Regions from separate parts of the Homo sapiens genome. Here region 2 is linked to region 1. A link means that fine-mapping ties the variant in region 1 to the expression of a gene that starts in the linked region. Tissue or cell type: whole blood. Region 1 holds a variant in brackets; the other region holds the start of a gene. All regions are shown on one strand. Distances are from middle to middle.

What was found. PIP is the estimated chance that this variant, and not a neighbour inherited with it, causes the effect.
Region 2: it holds the start of ARFIP1, and the variant in region 1 is fine-mapped to the expression of ARFIP1 in whole blood (INTERVAL, PIP above 0.99).

What each region holds. Positions count from the first base shown.
Region 1 is chr4:152,882,346-152,890,532 of GRCh38, reverse strand. ARFIP1 (ARF interacting protein 1) reads right to left here. Exons shown (of 9, transcript NM_001025595.3): 7 at 7,653-7,810; 8 at 2,226-2,400. Among named protein-coding and RNA genes, the nearest start is that of FHDC1, 50 kb to the left of the region's middle. The variant T/C (reference allele first, on the strand shown) is at 4,869.
Region 2 is chr4:152,775,591-152,783,777 of GRCh38, reverse strand. It overlaps ARFIP1 (ARF interacting protein 1), which reads right to left and starts at 3,824. Exons shown (of 9, transcript NM_001025595.3): 1 at 3,552-3,824. It overlaps TIGD4 (tigger transposable element derived 4), which reads left to right and starts at 4,048. Exons shown (of 2, transcript NM_145720.4): 1 at 4,048-4,296. RefSeq lists enhancers at 3,547-3,596, 3,787-3,946, 4,397-4,606.

The DNA.
Region 1 (8,187 bases):
TTTCATTTGGCTATAAAAGATCCCTAATTAGTACATGTGCTTCTATTTTCTTTCTTCCCTTAAGAAAGAAAGAGACTTTCTAAATGACTTTTTCCTGCTACTCTCAACTTTAAAAATTCTTCAATATTTACAAGATAAAATCAGAAGTAACATTCATCTGATTGACATTTAAAATTTATAGAGACGACCTGGCTCTATAAATGAAAAGTGTCTCCTTCCCTCCCTCTGTAAACGAAAGTGTCTCCTTCTTCCCTCCCTGCTCAGTGTACACATTCCAAGGCCACAATTCAAAGTCTGTATGTGGTCAAGGCTTAGTATAATCTGGCTTCCAATTACCATTTGATTCACTCTTCCTTTAAATCACATGAACCTTATGTTTCACTATGTTAGTCTACTTTTCTATCAAACACGTATATTCTTCTAGCATACCTCTTTTAGTATTATTGTGTAGTGATGATAGGGTGGAATGCCAAAAATATTTTTATATTTAAAATGTACAATGTCTATTATCTAAATATTGATATATTCACATCCATTATATATATGACTAAATATATATGACTAAAATATGTATATATGACTAAAATATATAGTGTATGTATAGTATACATACACTATATATTAGTATATATATAGTATACATACACTATATATTAGTATATATATAGTATATATAGTATATATAGTATATATATAGTATATAGTATATATAGTATATATATAGTATATAGTATAGTATATAATATATAGTATATATAGTATATAGTATAGTATATAATATATAGTATATATAGTATAGTATATATAGTATATATTAGTGTATATATACTATATATAGTGCATATATATATTATATAGTATATATTAGTGTATATATACTATATATAGTGCATATATATACTATATAGTATATATATGTATATATAGTATATATATATTTATGTGTATATATATTTATATATACACATAAATATACACACACACACAAAAATAGGTGTATATATATATATATATATATATATATATATATATATGACTAAAATGAATGCAATCTTATGTGCTCAGCTAATGAATACCAGAAGGCTGCACTGGGCTCTGTCTGAATGATGCCAGGCAATTTTTCTAACAACTCTGCTGAGGTTTCCTTTATTGCCACTATAATGTTTTCTGGTGAGTAATTTTCACCCATAGCAGCTTAAAAACAAGTCAGTGAAAGTGCTGGACTAGGTGGATCCCAAAGAAATATATTATTTTATAGGTTTTATAGTAGCCATGAGAGTTTCTAAGGAAATGTTAAAGAAAACAATAAGATACTGACAGTTATAGTTTACTAAAATGCCCTTTGATGTTATGGAGGAGAATATAAACATGACTGTTTCCTGAGAGAACTGAAAAACAATTTTAAGAGGGTACCTGGAAGAGAGTACAGTTGAAGACCTGTCATGACTTCACAGGATGTGAAATGCACAGAAAAAACTACCAACGTGCAATGGTGAGACCCATCTGTTCAGGACTGCACTACACCTATTCCGTACCATGCTCACTCATTTCCCATTTCCAGAACTGCAATCCTGCATACAAAGCTGAATATGCAAGTAATAGAGATATGTCAAACATGAGAAACCATCCTTTTACTTAAACCAAAACACAGGAGCCTATTAGTATATGAATCCACTTCCTGCTGAAACCTACAGCTGGTCCAGTTCAGCCCTCGTTGCTCTAGTCCTTAGATGTGTTCACATATGAAAAAAATGTGGAAAATGGATCTCTTGGCTTCCTTCTCCTAGGTTATGCTAACTGCAGCCCTAAGCTGGACCTTTTAGCTATTTTTCACTTATCAATTGCTGAGAAGAATGCCATAGTTCTTTTCCTGAAATCTGTACCTATCATTAATAGAAAAGCTTCAAAATATTCAGAGCATAATCTATCATTATTTCAATTTTTAAAGCACTTGCTATCAACGCCAATCCAAAGATCAATGGCTGTCCATCAAATACTTTTTGCCATGTGTTATATGTGAAAGACTGGGACGGTGGCATTGATAACTTTTATCAAAGAAAGGTAAATATATTTTGTATGCTTCTAAAAACTCAAACACTGATTACAAATGGAATTCCTTCTTGCAATTGTCATACAAGAGAGTTAACAGAAACAGAAAAACTGACTATCTCTCTTTAGGGTGACTTCAAAGTCCACAGAAAGACCTTAGAAGGTAAAGAATTTACCTTATTTTCTTCTAGAAATTTCAATTTGACAGAAACATCATTGCGCATTTTATCATATTTTTCCTTATGTGCTTGGAAGAGATGCTGTGACTGCTCAATCTTTGGCAGAGTGTTTGCGTCACGTGGTCCAAGATTCAGTTCTTCCAAATCAGTGCGATATGCATCATATTCAATCCTGGAAAGAAGAGAGTAAGTGAAGCATACTACAAGAACAGTAAAGTATGTTCAAAAAATGGGTTGGAAATACGTAATATTCAGTCTCATACTATACAATAAAATATATAAAATTCTCACACATATTCTACTTGACGCTTTTGAAATCATTATTTCTTTAAAAACAAAGAGCTATTTAAATAAGAACAAAGCTGCTGGTTAATCTCATTAACTATTTCTCTCAAAGCACAGTATTAACTGACAAGTAAAATTTCCAAAATCTAAAAACCAGTTAAAAAAAATAAATGTCAAAACAAGATCAAGGGTAGAATAAATACCCCAAGTGAATTGCTTAGTACTGATTAGGCAAAGCAGGTAAGGACAGCAGACTCTAGAATGGCATACTAAAACTAACGGAAGTGTAAATGGTTCTGAAAAAAGTCTGGGTTAGCAATGCACAACAAAAATGTAATGTGAGTAACACATGTAATTTAAAATTTTCTAGTAGTTACAATGAAATAATAATTAATTTCACCTGTTATCAATATATTTCATTTTACCCAATATATCTAAAATATTAATCATTGTGGCATGTAATCAATGTAACAGAATTATTCATAGGTACTTTACATTTGGAGAGTGGGTAGTGAGTCTTTGAAATCCACTGTGTATTTTACACTTCTATCCCATCTCAATTCAGACTAGCCACATTTCAAGTGCTCACCAGACATGTGTGGCTACTATACTTGACAACACAACTCTAGATGAATTTCTGTAACATCAGTATTCAGAATGTAACAACAGTATCTATTGTAGAGCACTTACCATCCTGTGTTCTGTAAGATGCCTCACTCTGATATTCTCCCCCCATCAACTCAAATAGTTACCCCACCACTGTCATCACTCCAAGATCCCATAACTCCTCATAATAGCTCTATCACAGTGCCTGTCTAAGTATAGTACTATCTTGCTTATTAAACAGTGATTTATCCAGCAGCTTCAACTATTCGGTACTCAGCAAAGAAGAAGCAAAGTGACCTCTAATTTAGTCAAGATCAGAATCACAAAGCTTATACCCTAAAACTAAAGCTCTTTATTTGGAGATATTAGGTGTATAATTCACATCTCCTATTCTGGGAATTAACAATACTTTAAATAACATAATCTATATTGTATATATGACTTGAGAAAGAATACATCAGTCCTTCACACTGATCCTAATTTATTCTTAACTCATACTGAATTTAGCAGTATGAGTTAAGATTTAATTTAATTGGCCTCTTTCAGGGTCAAAAGAGAACCATTCATTCATTCACTGATACACTGATTCATTCAACAATTCTCAAGTGAGCACTTTCCACGTTCCAGGCACTGTGTTAGAAAGTAGAGCTATAAAGATGAACAGATATGTTTATCCTCAAGAAGCTCGCATTCTAGAGGAAGAGAACCTTGTAAACAATTACAACAAAATGAGATAATAAGAACTACCATAAATGAGGGTAAGGTATAATGGAAATCAAGAGGAATAATTATTTAATTAGATATCTGAAAAGGTATCTCAGACAGAATTAAAATACTATAATTAAAATTTGAAGGATGGTAAAAGCTGGCTAGGTGAATTGGGATACAGAAATCAGTAGGATACTCTGATTCTGAAGAGAATAGCATGGACAAAGGCATAGATTTGTAAGATACAATGACACATTTGGGAATTCGGTATGTCAGAATCTGAAGCTGGAACATGACAATGGAAGGAATTAACATTAGACAGGCAGGCAGGATTGAAAGTAAGCAGCCCTACAGGCCATGTTAAAGTGTTTAAATTTAATCCAGTAGGAGAAGTAATGGGAAGCCACTGAAGAATGTTGATCTGACATAAAAATGACATGATTGTATCAGGATAGAAAGATGACCCTGGTGGTAGTGTAAGAGATGGAGGATAGAATAAATGATTAAAAAATCAGGAGCAAGGAAACCTATTAGAAAACGATGGACATATAAGAAATGAGTCACTGAATCAGGACAAAGGCATTGGAGCTAAGGAGACAAATACAAAAGATTTAGGAGGCAAGACTGACTTGGCAATAATAACTAGTTAGTTAAATCCATGGGTTCAGGAGCCAAGCTGAATGACCTCTCTGCCTTTTGGCTCTATTCTTGAGCTGGTTATTTCATCTCTTTGTGCTCCAGTTTTTCAATCTATAAATGTGAACAAAAATCTCCACAAAAACTTCATATAGATAAAACACACAGGATACCTGGTAATAACTGATACCTTTAGAATGCTTATTATTATGGCCAAATTAGAAGAGGGGTATCTAGAAGCAAGCACACTAAAAACAATAGGAAATAAAAGAGAAAAAAGTAGAACTAAATAAATAGTAATACATGGTGATTTAATCTAAGGACAAATATCCTTCAATAGCCTTGGAGCGCATTTCTAAACAACAGTGATTAACTCAAACATATTCAAAGTTATAATACTGACCT[T/C]ATATTTCTTAATTTTACATTCAGAGTTTGTAGGTGGTACCAAAGTAAAACTTTCCATAATAGCTTCTCTAACAGTGCTCATTACCACCAAGAAGAGAAGCTCACTAAGTTTTCAAAAAGCAACTTCACTTCAAGGTTGCCCGTCTGAACTGAGTCCGTATCAACAAAGTTAGTGACGGTTACTTTATGGCTTATGTAAAACTTCTAGAGAACAGGTGTCCACATCTGAAAAGTCTCGACCACAATTGACTCCCTTGTTGGTGCTGCTGTGGAGAAGTGTTGAATGGGCTGTTACAAGATTTTCTATACATGAAGCACCAGAGGGCTAGGAAATACTTGTACACAATGCATAATAGGGAGGATTAAAAGGCCACTCGGGCATTTGCCTAAATTACCACTTTTTGCACTGATCAAATAGATGACCCTTGCCCTAAAAGTCAGTAAATTCTGGCTTTGACAGAGAAGGAAATTCAGCTACTGAAAAACTTTTAACCTTGGATTCTTTTTGACTATTATCCATCAGTAGGCAAGGTTTTAGTGTTAACAACTAGCCAATTCCACAGCTATTTCATAAACAACAGAAAAGTCAAACCCCAAGCTAAGCTTAATGAATAAGATCATACATTGTAATTTGAATAAAAAAGGATAAATTACGGGATGACATAAAACAAAAACAACATTACTGTTGTTGTTTTTTAAAGTACACACAGAGGCTGTGTAAGGGTTTCCCTTAAGAAACCAGCCACCAAGTACATGTAACTTGATTTATAATTTTGTTCAAAAGTTCCAAATGAACCTATATACTGTATTTTATAATCTGAGATCTTATACCACATTATACTTAGGGCACTAATACTCAGGTATAAGGCCTACTGATAAAATGTGAACCATAGAGAACCAATGGGTTCTTATTTTGCCTTTGAAATTGACTACAAGTGAGCAAACCATTTAACCTCTAGAGTGTTTTCTCCTCTACAAATTAATTATAAACTGTTTAGAAATAAAAGCTGAAGGGAAAGAGATTATTATTAACGAAAATATATTTCAGGATAGGTAGACAATTGCAAAGTAGAGAAACTAGATTCACAAAGTTCTCAACTAGGAGGTGGTGGGGGTATTTTTGGAAGAAAACAATATCCATCTTTAAAACCCATACATGTTAAAACAATCAGAAGGACTAGAAAATATGAATATTTAAAATGATTAGAGATAAAAGAAACAGTACCATTATGAACAAATTAGGACATTATGAACAAGGAACAGAAAAATTTAGAAAAGGATCAAGTAAAACTTATATAAATGAATTTTAAAATTCATATACATAATGAACCCTTTGAAAAATATAATTTCCATGAAAGGATTTACACTGAGACTGAAACACCAATTACTGAGAATGTTATTGAAGAGATTTCCACGGAAGGCTATCTTACTAACAGCTATCCTCACCCTTACCCCTCCATACAACCACAGCTGTTTGACCTTCATTTTCAAGTCAATAAGAATCTCATACTTTAATACTAAATGGAAAATGACAAAATAAACATGGTATGGGACAGAAGCATCTCTTCCTGTGAAAACATCAAAAATTAACTTTTCAAAATGATTTGGGCTTTTACTTAATTGAAGTGTAAGGAAATATATATTTAATAAGCACTCAATTGCAAAAATACTAGATGAGTTTGGAGTTTTTTACAGGTATTTCTCATACCATTAAACTAGGATAAGAGGCCAAAGAGTAAAGTTATCCTTCTAAAAGGTAAAGTTTATCTTCAACTATGCATAAAAAGTATAATGGAAAATAAGAATTTTGAGTGCTCAAAAGAAAAAAACCTCAAAAGGGACTAGAATGATACTTAAATAAAAGGGGTAGGGCATATGGGGAAAAAATTGGGCCTGGAATCAAAAGGTGAAAAAGGCTATTATAGGTCTGCCATATTTTAGACCCTTCAAAATATTTATTAATATATTTATTAATATATATTTTGTTCACCATTTAACAGGATAGTTATGAGACAGGGAAACTGTATATATACATATATATATGAATATGGATATACAAAAACCCATTAAAATAGGATGTATAAAAACACTGCATTATGAACAGTTATCAAAATACAAGTCAAATATTTAATTTATATAAAAGGTAAAATTTGAAAGGGTTTGAAGGCTTGTTATAATCTGGATAAATGGAAGATGACTGATATCCTAACAAACAAAAATCATGGAGGCAAAATGAGCTTATTTATTCAATAGAAACTGAAAGTATGGGTCTGGCTATTGTGGAAGCAGTGGTAATAAGGATGAAAGGTAAATTTAGGCGAGAGTATAGAGGACCATGTAATACCTACCTGGTAGAACATAGGGCCCTGTCCTCTTCTAAAGAAGCCAGAGCTGGGAGATCCTCCATTTCCCTACTCACTAGAAGGCAGGGTTTGGGCACATGACCAAGGCTCAATTAGATAATCTCAAGGCAATGAAGCAAGTATTCATGGGTATTTAGGAAATTATTTATGGTAGCTGTGGCAGCATCAAGTACTAGAGGCACCCAGCATAGGGGTTCTAATTAGATTCTTCTGAGGCTTAACTTGGCTTTGGTTCTTGGTTGTTTCCAGAATCTTGTTCTCTCCCTTTCTGCCAGGTCTGTAGAGGCATCCTATAACTTTCCAGTACATTTTTTTCCTGCCCATATTGGCCAGAGTTGGTTTCTGTTGTTTGTAACCAAAAAATTAACTGAATTATATGCCATCTGTAAAACAGACAACACAGTGAAAATGTATACCTTACCTGGCACTTTCATACTGTTTCACAGTCATTAATGTATCTTCAATGGTTTTATTCACCAAAGTGTTCACACTAGCAATGAAAAAATTAATGGCCCCAAGAAGAGTCTCTCCATTTTTAGCCAGCAGTTTCTGGGTATCGGCATTATAGCCAAATTCTTCCTAAAACAAAGAAGTCACCTTAATTTATTCAGTAATAAATCAGTAAAAGTGACTTAAAAATCTCAAGCACGTCACTAATGGGAAAATATGTGATTTAGATAGAGATCTAGCTGTAGCAGTTTTACTTTTCCTTTCCGTCTTTAAGAATCGAAATCACAGCTAGCCATATAATTACTGAAAAAGTCTAATAAACCAAAATTGTCATCAGCTCAGATACATACCTAAAAGCTAAATAATTTTTTTAAGTTACTTTGTAGTAGAAACAATATTTTCATTTCTACATTTTGTTTCTATTATACTATAAGCACAGCTGTTGGAAAGAAAAATAGAGCAGATTATTAATCAGAGAAACTATAACTTTCACAGCCAAATTAGGT
Region 2 (8,187 bases), 110 kb after region 1:
CTTTTTTGTCAAACTTCTCAGTATGATATTCAACCAGATGTTCATCCACTGAAGATTAAGAAAGGAAACAACCTTTTCTCAACACCTGATAGAAAGTCAGGTGATATATCTCCAACTCATTTCAAAAAGGACATAATGGACGCATGGTAGAAGTTGTCTACAGTAGTAGTCTAGAGTCAGACAACGTAGGTGGAGCCATGCACTGGCTCCACCAGCGCAATTCTGAGCAGACTACTTTAGCTTCAGTTAATCATTCAGCTTTATTTTCTTCACCTACAGAAATGAGGACTTTAGCCACTTTATAAGGTTATCATTTGAGATAATAATGTAAAGCACTTAGCTTAATGCACATGGTAAGCAAATAAATGTAACTGTTACAGTGTTAGATATAAAATATCTTCCGAATTTGTCATTACCTTAAAAGGAAACTAATTTAGCATAAGCTAGTCTGTTGTTGATGTTGTTTTTGAGATGGAGTCTCACTCTGTTGGCCAGGCTGGAGTGAAGTGGTGGGATCTTGGCTTACTGCAGCCTCCGCCTCCTGGGTTCAAGCGATTCTCCTGCCTCAGCCCCTCCCAAGTAGCTGGGACTACAGGCATGCAACACACACCCGGCTAATTTTTTTATTTTTAGGAGAGATGGGGTTTCACCATGTTGGCCAGGTTTTGAACTCCTGACATCAAGTGATCCACCCGCCACAGCCTCCCAAAGTGTTGGGATTACAGGTGTGAGGCACCGTGCCCAGCCTAGCATACGCTATTCTCTATAAACTTATGTTGACTGCTCCCCCAAGTGAGGTTGCTAGACAGAGGAAAACTTATTCTGTGAGCAGAAGAAACTGGATACTCATGATAGACTATGATGAGCTGTATAGGTCTCTTCAAGTTAACATTCTAAAAAAAAAAGTATCAGACCTTTAGAACTGCAACCCTCAATCAACAAATAATTCACAACCAAATCAGTAAGTTCAAATATGTACTCTAAAACTTACATTAAGCTTGGAAGGATACTAACGTATTCACAAGAGAGAAACAATCATTAAAATATCTCATACAGAATGGAGGGAAAGGGGATGTCAAGATAAGCAACAACATTCCAAAGGACCACACCACTGAAACATCTTGTTTGTTTTTCATAGCAAAGCCAAATCAAATCCTAAGGTACATGCCTCAAGCAAAAAAAATTAAGAAAATGAAAGCAAAATACAACTAGAATTTAAATTTTTTACTCTGAACTGTGCCTAGTTGGTTGGTGATATTTAATACATATTAAAGATAGGCACATCAGTTTGTAAATCCACTGGATCTCCAGAGCATGGACCACAAACAGCTATCCCTAAGAAGAAACCTCAAAACCACAAATCAGGAAATAAAGTGGGCAGCCTCATTTCCTTCTGTAAGTCTAGGAAGGAATTTAGAAACACTAATGTTTTAAAGGAGAGATTTCAATATCAAACTAGAAGAATCCCTGCATTCTCCTTTCCTTGGTCCCAAAGCAAACAATTTACAGTTTGGGAAAACACACACACACACACACACACACACACACACACACCCCTACCTGTTTTCACTAACTTCAACAAGACACTGCCTAAGTGGTGGTTTTAATCTATCAAGAAGCTATATATCTCCTTTGCACAGTTTGGGAAAGCACACACACATACACACCTGTTTTCACTAACTTCAACAAGATACTGCCTAAGTGGAAAACACACACACACATACACACACAAAACCTGTTTTCACTAACTTCAACAAGACACTGCCTAAGTGGTGGTTTTAATCTATCAAGAGGCTGTATATCTCCTTTGAGAATTTGATAAAAACAATGGACACTTTCCCCAGGGGGGAAAAAAATTCACTCAAACAAAACTGCATATAATTTCAGGGGTGGGAATGAGGAAGACCCCTGAAAGTTGTTGACCCTTAGGCCATGAACCCCAAGTCATCATCCAGGATTAAGGCAAATCATAATCCAAGGAAAACCAGTTTATCAATTTGGAAAGAAACTAAAGTAACTGAGGCAGGGATTTAATCCACAAAATACATTAGAAATCTTTTCTCTTTTCTCAGATAAAAGTGTGTTAGACTTGGTAGTTGGGAGAAGACGTGGGTCATGCTAAGCAAGGAAAACAAAACAAAAAACACCACAGGACAAACGAAAGAAAAGCAGAATTAAGGCAGCAGTAAAATATAGTAATCTGTAGCCGCTCTGAGAGAACAGCAATGAAATGGCCAATTCGGCCGGGCGCGGTGGCTCACGCCTGTAATCCCAACACTTTGGGAGGCCGAGGAGGGAGGATCATTTGAGGTCAGGAGTTTGAGACCAGCCTGGCCAACACGGTGAAACCCCGTCTCTACTAAAAATACAAAAATTAGCTAGGCGGTAGTGGCGCCTACCTGTAAACCCAGCTACTCAGAAGGCTGAGACAGGAGAAAAGCTTGAGCCTGGGAGGTGGACGTTGCGGTGAGCCGAGATCGTGCCAATGCACTCCAGCCTGGGCGACAGAGTGAGACTCTGTCTCAAAAAAAAAAAAAAAAAAAGAAAAAAGAAAAGGCCAATTCCTGAAGCCTTAACAGACGGCTGACTTAAGGTAACCATTTCTGGTGCACATTTCTATGCCAATTAAGTTAATTAAATGGCAAACATGAACACACCCTTACAGGTGAAAGTATGAAAGCAAAAGTTTATGCGAAGTTCTGGATCTCTTCCGGCTTTTCCTTATCAAATAATAATGTAGTTAGATGAATTTTATACTTTAGGAGAAAACAGGGTAGGGGCGGGGGACAGAAATCCTAAGAGTGGCCAAAGGATCTGCAGGAAGTATAAAGTGTAAACTTTTTGAAATCAAAGGGCTCAAGAGGAAGGTAAGAACAAAACAAAGGAAGTAATAACAAAATAAAGTAAAAGGGAAAAACGTCTAGCATCTAAAAACTGTTTTTAAAAAATTATTTCCTTTTCCTAGACACGTAAACAGTAGTAACTTGGCAAACAGGAACGGAGCAGAAGACAATCGAACAACTCCCTTTCCAAAACTCCAGCATTCCTTAGTCAGGCTTGGGACATTTCACAGGCAAGACTCCTCTCTGCACCACTGCCAGATGAATCTCTCAGAGGGACTGTCACTATCTCCCTTCCTCCCACTGCGGGAGAGAGGAAGCTGGGGATGCAGGGAGAAGAGGGGAGAAATGAGGGTTGGACAGCAAGCCTGAAGGTGGCCCACTCCGACACTTTGTCAAGAAAGGTCCGGATTCTGGATCCTGCAACTCCTTTTCCCACCCAATGTATGCAAAGCCAAGAGAGTGCCTCCCTGCAAGGGCCGGTCCTACACCTTCACTCGACTGTTTCGGGGGCACACTCAGAGGGACAGAAGGAATGAAGGACAGAAGAAACCAAAGGCATAACACTTGGGCAGATACGGCACAGACTAAGGAGAGGCGTGCCCTGTGAAAGTTCGGAACGGTGAACCCGTAGGCAACGTGCCCGCCCCACCAGCCACCTCAAACCATCTTTCCCCCGCCTTTTCCCAGGCGAGCCAGCTCCGCCCTCACCTTTCTTAGGGTAACTCGGTAGCTTCTAAGTCGAGGCTTATCCTTTCCGCCGCTCTCTGGAATCGCCTCAACCCTGGCAAAAACTGAGCGGAAACGCGACCCGGACCTTTTCCTTCTTCCCCTTCCCCCACGCACCTCGGCTGCTCGGGGGCGGGGAGCAACTGCAGCTGTCACAAATTCACACTGACCAACCGCCGAGGACAGTCGGACCGGCGACCTCTCAACCCAGCCTCCAGAACCAGAACCAAGAGCAGCGAAGCCGGAAGTGAGGAGACCGGAAGTAGCGTTGTCCCTGGCCCTGGACGGCCTCTCTCTCCCTCAATCCGGCCTTGCCCGGCCACGTCTCGGTGGTGTCAGCGCACCTCCCACGAGGATCCCTCCGCCCTTCTCCGGGAGGCGGGCTACGCCCCTCCCTCTGCTGCCCTAGCAACCACATCCGGGACTCCGGCGGTGTCGTTGCCCGGGTAATTTTCTGGCAGCGACCTAATGCGCGCGGGGCCAGAGGCACCGGCTAGAGCTGGGAGCTTGCGGAAGGGCGCCCCTGCCTGGTCTTGAGAGGTCGAAGGTCTCCAGGAGGCCTCCGCCTCCCTCTTTTTCATTCACACACCCTAGCCTCACACGTTAGGAGGACCCCCCCAACAGACCGTGAGCTGGTGCCGGGAGGGTGGAGGTAGATGTACCTCACCTCCACGCTACCACAGAAGAGCGAAAGCTGCTTTCTCAGCCACCGGAGAGCACGAAGAAGGTTATTCCAGTCCCGGGGGGAAGGTGGGGGTGGTAGGGAGAATGCGAAGATAAGGCAGCAGACGGAATGCGGGCGCTGCCTCGCGCTGCCCCCGTGCCTGGGGAGCCCTCTCCCTTCAGAAAGGCTAGACCCCCGGGCCCGGCATCCCTGAGCTCTTACTTGCTCTGGATTTGTGATCGCTTTTTGCTTTTTGCTCGCTCTCTCACAGTAGATTCCTTGATACTTTTCTTTCCGGCTCCTCTTTCTTTTTCCGGATGACCGAGCTCTGCTTTCTTTGCTTGCCCCATTACTTCTTAAATAGATCATTGTTCTGTCACGGAAACTGCTGAACAATTCGCTCTCTCAGAGCCCTTCGTAGTTTCCTAAACGGGGCCCCAACCTGCACTACTCTCCCCATCCCCAGAGCTCAGTGGTGCGAAAGCGTGGCTCCCCCGTGGCGCTAGATAGACCTGAAGTTCATTTACACACTGTACCATACAGTTGGTCCATCACAGAATATCCCTTCGAACTGCTGGACTGCTTTTCCTTTGACAGCTTTGAATGCTCATTTTTACTCCCATTTCACTTGTAGAAATGCGAAGGGTAACTGTGCACACGGCGAGATTTACCCTTCTTTAGACCGTACTTCTCAGCTGCCTTTACTTGTCACAGTAGCTGACAAGATATTTTTAATGACTAATGCCCAAAGGCAGAGCTCTACCTCTACAGATTTCCAGGGAGTTTCAGTGTAGTGAAATATCCCTGGCAGGTATCTTCCCCAGATCTGTGAATAGTAAACACCTATGGCACCATAAATGTTTCCAATGTATAACAATATTGATTGAGCTCTCTAGGATACCACCTCTTAAAAAAATAGTACTGAAATTCCAAAACATAAATCTCTTATCTTAAGTGGTTCTGTCTTAAACAAAAGAAAGGAGCAAATATATATGCCAACCCACTCAAACTGTAACTTCAATTGTTATAGCTTACTGTGGATTTTTCTGTACAAAGCCATCTTGTTGGTTTGGAGACCATTAGTCTTCTCAATTATAAGAAAATAATCCCAATCTAAATTAATTACTGCTGTAATTGTGTAGGAACTGAGCAACTACAGAACTTGCAGCTAAGTACAAGTGTTGTTCCTAGGGTTTCAGAAGGGTGACTTGGAGGAAGTGTACGGTAGGACTCAGCGGTGCTTGAATGATGTGGACAATGAATACTAAATTGTTTTTGCTGGCTGTTATCTTAAAGATTCCTGCTAGCTGTCTCTTGAGTTTGGAGATGCTTAGCTTGACTAAAGTTAGTCTAACTATTAGACTGTCAGACTCTGAAGTGTTTCTTATTTTGGAAAGGTGAAGACTTGCTTTAGTTTGTTCATAGTTTCCTTGGCAGCTGCTGATGGTTTTGATGGAGATTCAGATGGATTTGGAACTAATGCTAACTTCTGCTTGGTGAAGATGCTAACCAAGTTAGATACTCTTCAGTGAATTCTGGTACTGTGTACGATTAATCCTCATCCACAGTATTACGCTGTGCAAGGCTATATATACACAGGATTAATCTTTCCATGATTTCCACTGCCCTGAAGGAAATTAGAATGTAGTCTGGCTCCAAGAAAACACTAGAAACTACTTCAGCTGGTGATGGAAAATAGTGGAATTCTATACATCCTTTGAGACAATGGAAGCAGCAAACCAGCGTTCTTTGGATTGGGGAATATTTTTGGTACTAACTGAAAAACATCATTTTAAGCCTGGCCCTGCTTAGAGGAGACTTGTTTTCTCTTCCCTCTCTCCCTCTCTTCCTTTTTTCCCTCCTTCCTCTTTTTCTTTCCTCCTTTCCTTCTTGTCTCCCTCCCTTCTCCTTCCTTCCTTCTTCCTCTTTTTCTTTCCTCCTTCCCTCCCTCCCTCCCTTCCTTCCTTTTTTCCTTTCTCCCCTCCTTCCTTCCTTTTTTTCTTCCTTCCTTCCTCCCTCCCTCCCTTCTTTTCTTCCTTTCTTCCTTTGCCCTAAAACTTGGGGGACCCTGCCTGCTCATTTTGTTTAGAATAGAAGATTACTACTTTTCTCTGAATTGTCATTTATTTTTAGAGAGGTAAGAAAAAAGGGAATAGCTGCCTTCCATATATACTTATGACATGGAGATTATCTACTCATTTAACTTTGCACTGCTATTGGCTGTTTATTTGGCTTTTGAAAAATCAGGTGCTATTTATTCATTGGGCTTGTGGGGAACTCTAGTAGCCCTGAATGGCATTTGTGGCATACTCAATGAAGTCTAATTCTTTATCCTGGCATTAAAGGCTTACCAAGATCTGGCCTCAATCTTGCAAATGAGCACTCTCTTATATACCTGAAGGAAAAGTGCTAATTTAGCCAACTAATAGAGATAGGTATAAATACCAATATAGACATAGATATGAAACTTTAGTTGCAAAGAAATGTTTAATATGCTTCAAAGTGCATATTTCCCTCTTCCATGCTTTATTGTCTATTCTTATCAGCAGAAATGTTTTCCTATTTTTCCTTACCTGTGATGTACCTATCCATCCTTTACAGTTGAGTTCAGATGCTACTTCTGTCATGAACCCATTATTTATCCTCCCTGTGAGAATTCATTTTTCCCTGTTTTTGGATCTTACAGCCTTTGATTTGAGCCCCCATTTCAGTCTGCTTTATACTACTGTCTTGCATGTTTTCCCATGATAAATAAGATGGTTTTTGGGAAACTGAACTTTGGACTTACTTGATTCTCTTATAACACCAGGAAATTGGCCAATTCTAGTTGAGTTATGGAAATATGTTGTCTGCTGCATACCAGGCAAGTTCAAGAATACCAGCAACTCCTGCTACTTAGGGTAATGGTACAAGTAGGATTAAGTGGATATAGTTGCTATCTATCTGTAGAAGACAATGAGTGAGTGCTGTCTTAAGTTTGGAAAGTAGTTGATTCTCTGCAGAGGGGTATAAACTACTGATGAAAGGAGAGTGACTCATTACTCCTAGAGATTCTGAATGGGAAGAATGCCAGCTTTATGTTTTCTGATACTGATTTTTTTTTTAATAACTTGGTGCAAAAGTAGAACATTATTCTAAGATGACTGTTGTGGAAGAAAAAAAAGGTAGAACATTAGAGTTGTAAAAATGTTTTTAACTATAAAGAGGAAAAAACTGAACTTATTTATAATTCATTTACCTAGAGAGAACATTCAACATTTTGGTCAATGTATTTTTTTTCTTTATATCTATGTAGATATATATTTCTTCATTTATTTAACAAATTGCTACTGACACCCTATGGTTTGCTGGAAGTGAGCTGTGTAGGAATAACCATGAGCCTCTGCTCTGATGTAATTTTTAGTGTATGTTGTATTTGTTGACATATAATTTTATATTTTGCTTTTTTCACTTAATGTATCATGGAATTTTTTCATATCATTAAATATTCTCTTTGTGTGGCACAATAGTATTTCAGCATGTAGATATTTTGTAATTTATTGAATGAATCCTTTTTGTTGCATATTTTCAATTTTGTCTGTAATTATATAGCAATGCAGGGAATAGTCCCGTGTAGCAGGTGGAATTCTAAGATGAACTCCAGTGACACTTACCTTGTATAATTCCCTCTCCCTGTGAACATGATGGGATATTACTTCCATGATTATGTTATGTTACTTGCAAGGGAATTTTGGAGATATAATTAAGGTTGCTAATCAATTGACTCTGAATTAATCAAAAGGGCAATATTCTAGGTAGACCTAACCTAATCAAGTGAGCACTTTAAGAACAGAGAGTTTTCTCCTGCTTGTGGCAGTAGAGGAAGTCAGAGAGATTCAAAGTGTGAAAGAGACTCTACAGGAGGAATGTTCTCCATTGCTGAAATGACAATTTCCCACAGACAAGGACCTGAGG